2 separate regions of the Homo sapiens genome follow, and region 2 is linked to region 1. Evidence: fine-mapped expression QTL. A gene starts in region 1. The other region holds a variant in brackets. All regions are shown on one strand. Distances are between the middles of the regions.

Region 1 (4,389 bases):
CCAGGGCCACAGCCAGGGTGGGGACCCCAACACGGTCTCAGGGATACAGGAAGCAGGCCCACTTGCAACCTGGCTCCCTGCAGCTCCTGCCCACTGGCTGCTGCTTCTCCATCAGAGATGCCCTCCTCTGCCCTCTCCCCAGTTCCCAAACTGACCTCTTCCAGGCCTATTAGGGCCGCTTCTTCCAGGAAGCCACCTATGTGATTATTTCCCTCCCCCTCCTTCCTTCCCATGGCCTCCTTTCCCCAGCCAGGCTGTTAGCTTTTTGCATTTTATCTTTCATTTTGCATCTTTCTCTATCTCCCTTTCTCACTAGATGGGGATTTATTATAACAGCAACCAATTTTCCTGTGCTGGAAAATGAGGAAAGCAGTGTAGCTGTGAGAAATAGTAAAAGTGTTTCAGGTCTGTCAAGAAAACAAAACCAAATCACACCATTTCCCCTTCATTTCATCTTTGTTAAATGAATACCTAAGCCAACGGTGTGCAAAGCGAAGGGCTGAATGCTTTAGTTTTCCAGTCCTCACACTAAACATTAAACTCATCTGACGGGATTCACAACATCTCTTTAATAATTAATGGTACGCGCTCAGGACAAAATCCTCTATGATGCATAAATACTTGCTAGTACCGGCACCTCCTGGTTGTTTTGGAAGTTTGGAGAGGATGGTGGATGGACACCCCCTCTTTTTGAAAACATTTTTTCTTCATCTGTCATTTGAATTACCAAAGCATTACAAGTGTATCATTAAACATTTAAACATTAGAGAAATATACAGAATGAGGGAAGTTAAAGTCCCCGGAATCTGAGCCCTCAGGGATGACCACTATTGAGTTTGTGTGGCATTTTCCTCCTTTTTTTTTTTTTTTTTGAGACGGAGTTTCACTCTTGTTGCCCAGGCTGGAGTACAGTGGTGCGAGCTCGGTTCACTGCAACCTCCGCCTCCCAAGTTCAAGCGATTCTCCTGCCTCAGCCTCCCAAGTAGCTGTGATTACAGGCATGCGCCACCACACCTGGCTAATTTTGTATTTTTAGTAGAGATGGGGTTTCTCCATGTTGGTCAGGCTGGTCTCGAACTTCCAACCTCAGGTGGTCCACCCACCTTGGCCTCCCAAAGTGCTGGGATTACAGGCATGAGCCACCGCGCCTGGCCTTTTCTCCACTTTTTTTTTCCTAAATGTATGTTATTTTATGTTATTCATTTTCCAATAGGGGATCACACAGTAACAGTGTTCTCATAATTTGATTTTTCTAGCAGAGTTCCGCACACTGTTGAGAGCCCATGTGTTACCTTGATTGAAAACTAGCCACAGAGCAAGACTCTACCTTTAAAAAAAAAAAAGAGGGGGGGCACGGTGGCTCATGCCTGCACTCCCAGCACTTTGGGAGGCCAAGGTGGGCAGATCACTTGAAGCCAGGAGTTCGAGACCAGCCTGGCCAACATGGTGAAACCCCGTCTCTACTAAAAATACAAAAATTAGCCAGGCATGGTGGCAGGTGCCTGTAGTCCCAGCTACTCGGGAGGCTGAGGCAGGAGAATTGCTTGAACCCGAGAGGTGGAGGCTGCAGTGAGCAGAGATCACACCACTGCACTCCAGCCTCGGCAACAGAGCGAGACTCTACCTCAAAAACAGAAAAGAAACAAAAACTAAATGCCTCTGAGCAGCACTACTGTCTCCATGGGTGGCCACCACAGGGATGGGCCTGGAGCTGTCCTCGAAGGGGTCTTCGCCAAGCCCTAGTGAAGAAAAAAAGGACGCTACCTGCTTTTCCACTTTGCCCTGTGCTACCCCCTTCCCCTCCTTTCTTCAGTCCCGCCTTCCCTCCTCTCCTACTGTCCTTTTCTCTCACCCTTGTTTCTGTCAGCATCCAGAGGGAAGCCAGGAACACAACACATCCAGCAGCAACCATGCAGTGCAGCTTATAACCTTCACATCGTTGTGGGCCCTAATCTCTACAACAAGGATTTAATGGGCTGTGTGTCTTGGGGTGGACCTTGAGCTTGGAGCCCAAAGGTCTCCACTCCTGACTGCCAAAGTTAACTTGCTGCCTCATCTGGTGGTGGGTAATAGAGCACATGAGGAGTCAGCGTGCTCCTGCTTAGGAAGTACCTGGCAGGGAGTCAAGCGGCATCAGGCTGGCAGGTGTCATTGCTGTCACAGGTCCCATCCGGGGTGTCCTGACACACTGCTCCCCTCCTCCAGGCCAGGAGACTCCGGGCTTCTCCCCTGCTCCTCCTCTCAAGGAGGCATGGCCAGCAGGGATCCCAGACCCCAGAAGCCAAGCGGTCTTTTCAGGTGGAATGTGGCAAAAAGCCACAGGCTGGGGAGTTGGGAGGCTGGATAGATTGGGGTGGAGACCCCAGGGAAAGACCAACAGCTGGAGGACCTCAGGTGTCCCGGCTGTGCCCCTCCAGCTGTGGGACCTCAGCATGTCCTTGGGCTTCTTGGTGGCCTGTTTCCTAAGGAGACAGCCTCTGAGGCCCGGCACACCCGCAGACGCCCGCTGAGTGAGACCTAGAGCTGAGCCAGGCCAGGGCAGAGTGGGGAGAGGACCACATAAATATACATAGATAATTTCCCTCACCATCCAGCAGAGCTCAGAAGGGTTGACAGTAAAGGGGCTGCTCCACCCCTCCAACTCTATCCCATTCCTCAGAGGCAACCACCTAACTTTTCTGGTTTTAGTTCTTCTGCAGGCCACCTCCTGTTTTAGGGAATTATTAGTCAAAGAGTTGGAGAGGATCCCTTCTCGCCAGGCTCTGACATAATAGGTTATTTTATAAGTAGTGAGTGAAACATTCAAAAAGCACAAGAACTGTCAGAAGAGTTGCTCAGCAATCTCTTTATTTTCTTCTCATGATTCTGCCCACACTCATTTCTTAGCTCTTCACAGGCGAGGTCTCTTTCATTGCATCGATTCGTGTATCCAAGCACTGGACAAATAAAGAGGCTTATCACTCGTCAAGTTCCATGAACATGACCTCATCATTCTTCTCTCCTAAACCTGGGATGATTGGCAGAAAGGGCATCCATACAACTTTTTCTTCTGCATTTGGCATTGAAAAATGGACTTCCCGTAGTCTGTAGTAGAAATATTGGAAAGTAGCAATAATCCTAGCACTTTGGGAGGCCAAGGCAGGTAGATCGCTTGAGCCCAGGACTTCAAGACCAGCCTGGGCAACACAGGGAGACCCTGTCTCTACAAAAAATAGAAAAAATTAGACAGGTGTGGTGGCGTGCACCTGTAATCCCAGCTACTCAGGAGGCTGAGGTGGGAGGATCATTTAAGCCTGGGAAGTCAAGGCTGCAGTGAACCATAATCACACCACTGCACTCCAGCCTGGGCGACAGGAGTGAGACCCTGTAAAAAAAAAAATTGATGACATAGAGCTAAATACAAAGACTAAAGAAATATCTTGGGCTTTTATACTCTTTGCTTGTGACTCTTCTAGTTTTCCTGTGGGAACGGACTAGCCCAAGTGTTAGAGCACACTGCTCTCCCGGCAACTACAGAGCTAGTTCAGCTGGTCCCAGGGGAAGAAAGCATTCCAGTACCCCAAAGGCTGGAAGCCCCCAGCCTGCTTGGCATGATTATCCAACGGTTTCCGATATAGTTTACTCCTTGACCCACTCTACTCACTGAGAACATCTGGGCACATGTGGTCATCATCCAATACAAAATGGAAGGCCGAGTCTGGGGCTCATCTACGGCAGCAACAAGAGGCCTGGTAGAATTAGGATGCCGGGTCCCACCTGCAGGAGTGCTTAAGGCCACCAGGCAGGGCGAATTTTACCCAAGCAGTTCAGAGCTCACTGTTCCCAAATATTTAATATTTAATTGATTGTACTTAAAAAGTGTATTTCCCTTGTTGTTCTTTTTACCTTCTATTCCTCTTGCCTCTCCAGCTCATATTAGCATTTTATTTATTCATTTATTTTTTTGAGACAGGGTCTCACTCTGTCTCCCTGGCTGGCGTGCAGTGGCGCAATCTCAGCTCACTACAGCCTCGACCTCCCACCAATCCTCCCACCTCAGCCTCCAGAGTAGTTGGGACTACAGATGTGCACCATACGCCAGCTAATTTTTTTTTCTTTTTTAAAAAATTTCATCCTGGTTGTTCTAATATTTATTTATTTACCTATTTTGTAGAGACAGGGTCTTACCATGTTGCCCAGGTCTAGAACTCCTGGGCTCAAGTGATCCTCCTGCCCCGGTCTCCCAAAGTGCTGGGATTACAAGTGTGAGCCACTGTGCCCAGCCTCATATCAGCTTTTCATATAGTGAGAAATTGAGATAGTTCCTTTTCAGTTTGATCCAGATCAAGATGTTCTGCAAACCAAGGGTCTTAATTCATGTTATGCTATTGGGTTCAGGGGTGATGTCCC
Region 2 (4,389 bases), 21 kb before region 1:
GAATCACTCATGCTATAAAGTTCCACATCACAAGTCAAAACTAAGCTGTCTTCTGACCTTCCAAAAAATCAGGAGAATGAGACAGATAGCCAAATCCCCAAATGCAGCATGACAGGCAGTCCCCTCAGCTGTGACCTTTATAAGGAAAGTGACCTTGAAACAACCAATCTGCTATTTATTTTCTGTTTCTGCTTTCTTCAGCCTTTCTCTGTCTATAAAGCCAACCTCCTCCACTCAACTCATCGGAACACCCACTCTATTTTTATAGAATGAGGTGTTGCCTAATTCTAAAATCACAAATAAAAGCCAATTAAGATCTTTAAACTAAATTTGTTCTAATTTTCTTTTGACAAAAGTAAATCATGATAGTTGCAAAACAAGTGTGCATGAATTTAATGATACTTAAAGGGGTTAAAATGGTTGATTTTATGTTATGTATATTTTACCAAAATAAAAAACAGAATTGGCTGGGCACCGTGGCTCAAGGTGAGATCACTTGAGCCCAGGAGTTTGAGACCAGCCTGGGCAACATAGGGAGACCCTGTACCTAAAAAAAAAAAAGAAAGGAAGGAAGGAAGAAAGGAAGGAGGGAAGGAAGGAAGGAAGGAAGGAAGGAAGGAAGGAAGGAAGGAAGGAAGGAAGAAAGAAAGAGAAAGAAAGAAAGAAAGAAAGAAAGAAAGAAAGAAACAAACAAACAAACAAACAAACAAACAAACCATGTTTTAATTAGCTTGGCATGGTGGCTTACACCTGTAGTCCCAGCTACTCAATACTGGGGAGGCTGAGGTGGGAGGATCACTTGAGCCCAGGATGTCAACGCTGCAGTGAGCCATATCCACACCACTGCACTCAGCCTGGATGTCAAAGCAAGACTGTCTCAAAACAAAACAAAATGGGCCCAGGTGTGGTGGCTTACACCTGTAATCCCAGCACTTTGGGAGGCCGAGGCAAGCGAATCGTCTGAGGTCAGGAGTTCGAGACCAGCCTGGCCAACATGGTGAAACCCTGTCTGTACTAAAAATATAAACATTAGCCAGGCATGGTGGTGGGAGCCTGTAATCCCAGCTACTGGGCAGGCTGAGGCAGGAGAATTGCTTGAACCAGGGAGGTGGAGGTTGCAGCAAGCCAAGATTGCACCACTGCACTCCAGCCTGGGTGACAAAGCGAGACTCCTTCTTGAAAGAAAAAAAAAAAAAAGAACAAAAATGTATAACTTCAATAAACGTTATTTTTAAACACACACACACAGAAGTAAATCATTTGCAGATTTGGGTTTTTTTTTTTAGCACTTTTAACTATTACAATTTCCAAGTTACTGCTGATTGCAGACCCAGCCTCTGGAAAGACTACTCTATTGGGACCTCAGTACCAGGCATGAGGGAAGTGGCAGCTGCACTGCCTGGTCCCCAGCTGCCCACCTGGTCTGGGGCCCCAGTCCACCCCACCCTCCAGGTCCCAAGCCTTCTCTATGGCCTCACCACCCACTTTTCCCCCTGCCAAGTGGCTTCTCCCCTACTCCCAGTAATCTAAGATGCTCTGGGCAGCCAGACCCCACATACCTACCCGGATCTGCTCGCCCAGCCACTCGAACGCAATGAATCCTGGTTCTGTTCTGATGACGAGGAGTCCAAGTACAAACTGCAGTCCAAGTCCCCAAGACACGGCCCTCCAGGACACCTACCACCCCACCCAACAGAAAGCTGAGTTCAGTTCCTTGAGGGATGGGCAGGGAGCCGGGTGGGGGTGAGAGCAGGGGGCATTGCCCTGCCCAGAGGATGGGGCTGGAGCCAGGCAGAGTACTAGGCCTGTTGCCAGTGGTCACACCCTCCCTGGGATTCAGAACAGGCCATGTGCTTGGTAGGAATGGGCCTGGGCAGTGAGGAGGGGTGGGCCAAGATTCTAACCAAGAACTCAGGTGAAACCGGACCAGCCTTGGGCATGCCA[T/C]GGCACTTCGTCTCCTGGTCATCACTGCCAGAGATGTGGCCTGGGGGTCTGGCCTCAGGATCAGCACCAGACTACTCTGGGCCCAGCTCCTCCCAGCTCGTGTGAACCCTGTCTGCCTGACCGTCTCCAATCTCTCCTCCAATAGGCTGGACTCCCAGCCGCCTCGACCCCGACTCTCTCCATGCCCACACCCCACGCCCCTCCTAGCAGACAAGAGCTGGGCTCCTCAGGTTGCTGTTCCTTGATGAGCATTTAATAATTCCTTAGCAGTGAGTCCAAGCTCAGGTGTGTATCATAAGCTCCTGGGAGGCTTGGCTGTAGCCTGGGGAAGGTGGTAGCCACACTGTGAAACAGGGAGGGATCTTATGCTATGGAGGCAGAGAGAGAGAAGATTCCATCTGCCTATGGCAGGGCCCTCCCAAATGGGTGCGTGGCTGCCTGAGTGTACATCAGAATTTAGTACACATCAGAATTTAGTACACATCAGAATTTAGTACACATCAGAATTGTGCTTGCTGACAGGATGATTGCTGCCCTTGCCCCTGAGTTTCTAATGCAGTGGGCCTAGGGTGGGGCCTAAGAAGTTACATTTCTGGCAAGTTCCATGGAGGCGCCGCTGTTGCTGGACTGGGGAGCAGACTTTGAGAAGCACTATTTTAAGCTAATGATTCCAGGAAACCCTTGGCTCTGCAGACAGGCTGGAGTTCTGGCCTGTGTTTTCTGTGGTTGGGGGTGGAGGTGGTTCCTGAGCCTACAGACCTGAAGACCAGGATTAGACTGACCAGAGGACATGTCACCAAGGAAACAAATGTCCTGGTGGCCTCTGAGTCTGGAAAGACATCCCTGCTGGGGATTTTGAAGACTTCTTCTTCACAGGAAGCCTATCCTGATACACACAGGCCTTCTCCAGGCCCTGAGCCTCCAGGGCTCTCCCAACAGGAACATCTGCCTATACCCCAGCTCCCAGATCCAGCCTAGGGGCAGAAGAGAGAGGCAAACACTTCCAGCCCTGGGCCCCACAACTAGCACTCACTGCGCAATGATGCTTTGAGCAGGCAAAGAGGAGAGCGACGAACACGCAGATTCCTGCGAAGGACACCAGTTGCTCAGGCCGCTGGGAGGTGTCCAGAGACAGCCACAGGACCAGGCCCAGGAAAGCAGCAAGAGCTAGACCCCTGCAGGCAAGAGACAGAAAGCCATTACCCTCAGCATTGCACCCCCACCCCACCCACACACAATAGCACCCGGGGACCCAGAGAAAGGGTGCTCAGGGCTGGGAGGAGGAGAAACAGCACAGCAGAGTGGAAAGAGCACCAGCTCTGGAACCACATGCTGGGAAGGGCTGACCTCGCTGTGTGACCTCAGGCAGATCACCTTGCCTCTCTGAGTCTAGTTTCCTCATGGGTCAAATGAAGCCAGAGACCCCTCATTTCTCAAGGTTGTTGAGAGGATTATATAAGGGGATATATGTACCAAGCTGAGCATAGTGACAAGCACCTGGCTCCATCCAGCTACAGGAATCTCACCGCTGCAGTGATGCTCAGCTCAGCCTCTGACCTTGGGGGAGAAAGGACCTGTGCCACCCAGGACTCAACACTACCAGCCATGACTGCAAAATGCCTAGAAGCATGTGATGTGAGTTTGGACCTCCAAGCTGAGCACCTGAGACCAAGGAACGGATCCTACCTTAACAGCAACACTTCCCTCCCTGGGGCTGGGATTTGTTTGTCCAGGATGCACCCTGAAGGGTGGGAGAATTCAGGTTTTGGCATCAGGTACTCAAGATCTCACCCCAATCCGGTCATCAATTCACTGGGTACTACTAATGACAGTTAACGTTCATTGAGCACCTATTATATGCCAGGTACTATACCGATGCGAGAGACATGTTCTTTTGATAGAGATGAGGAAACTGAGGCACAGAGAGGTTAAATAACTGGCCCAAGGCCACTCATCTAGAAAGTGGCAGAGCTGAGATTTCAACCCAGGCACTCTGGAAGCAAGGTCTATTCACTTAACTACAGTTTTATCCAGGCCGGTCCTAGCTGATAAGCAGGAGATCGAAGAGCTGAACTCAAGCAGGCTAATTCCAGAGCCTACTGCTTTTCTTTCTGCTCATATTTTTAAACTCTTCTCATTCCAGTTCAACATGCACAATCTTTGCCTTGTTTTTGTGCCAACTGTACCTCTCTTTACTTACTATTTCTCTTGAGGTTAACTGACTTTATAAGAACTCAAATGTGGCTGGGCGCAGTGGCTCATGCCTGTAATCCCAGTACTTTAGGAGGCCAAGGTGGGTGGATCACCTGAGGTCAGGCATTCGAGACCAGCCTGGCCACCATGGTGAAACCCCATCTCTACTAAAAATTCAAAAATTAGCCGAGCGTGGCAGTGGGTGCCTGTAGTCCCAGCTACTTGGGAGGCTGAGGCAGGAGAATCACTTGA

Which allele goes with the higher level. Positions count from the first base shown, and alleles are read on the strand shown. Sizes are in standard deviations (SD) of each study's normalised expression.
As copies of T replace C in region 2, the expression in spinal cord of the gene that starts at base 1,942 in region 1 goes down (moderate effect, 0.58 SD a copy in GTEx).

Evidence for each region. PIP is the estimated chance that this variant, and not a neighbour inherited with it, causes the effect. A credible set is the group of variants that fine-mapping cannot tell apart.
Region 2: its variant is the best candidate, but not a certain one, in a credible set for the expression of SLC28A1 in spinal cord (GTEx, PIP 0.60).

The regions. Positions count from the first base shown.
Region 1 is chr15:84,882,215-84,886,603 of GRCh38, reverse strand. It overlaps SLC28A1 (solute carrier family 28 member 1), which reads right to left and starts at 1,942. Exons shown (of 19, transcript NM_004213.5): 1 at 1,853-1,942. RefSeq lists enhancers at 1,862-2,362, 2,363-2,863.
Region 2 is chr15:84,902,827-84,907,215 of GRCh38, reverse strand. It overlaps SLC28A1 (solute carrier family 28 member 1), which reads right to left. Exons shown (of 19, transcript NM_004213.5): 7 at 2,978-3,119; 8 at 1,564-1,677. Among named protein-coding and RNA genes, the nearest start is that of SLC28A1, 20 kb to the right of the region's middle. The variant T/C (reference allele first, on the strand shown) is at 1,945.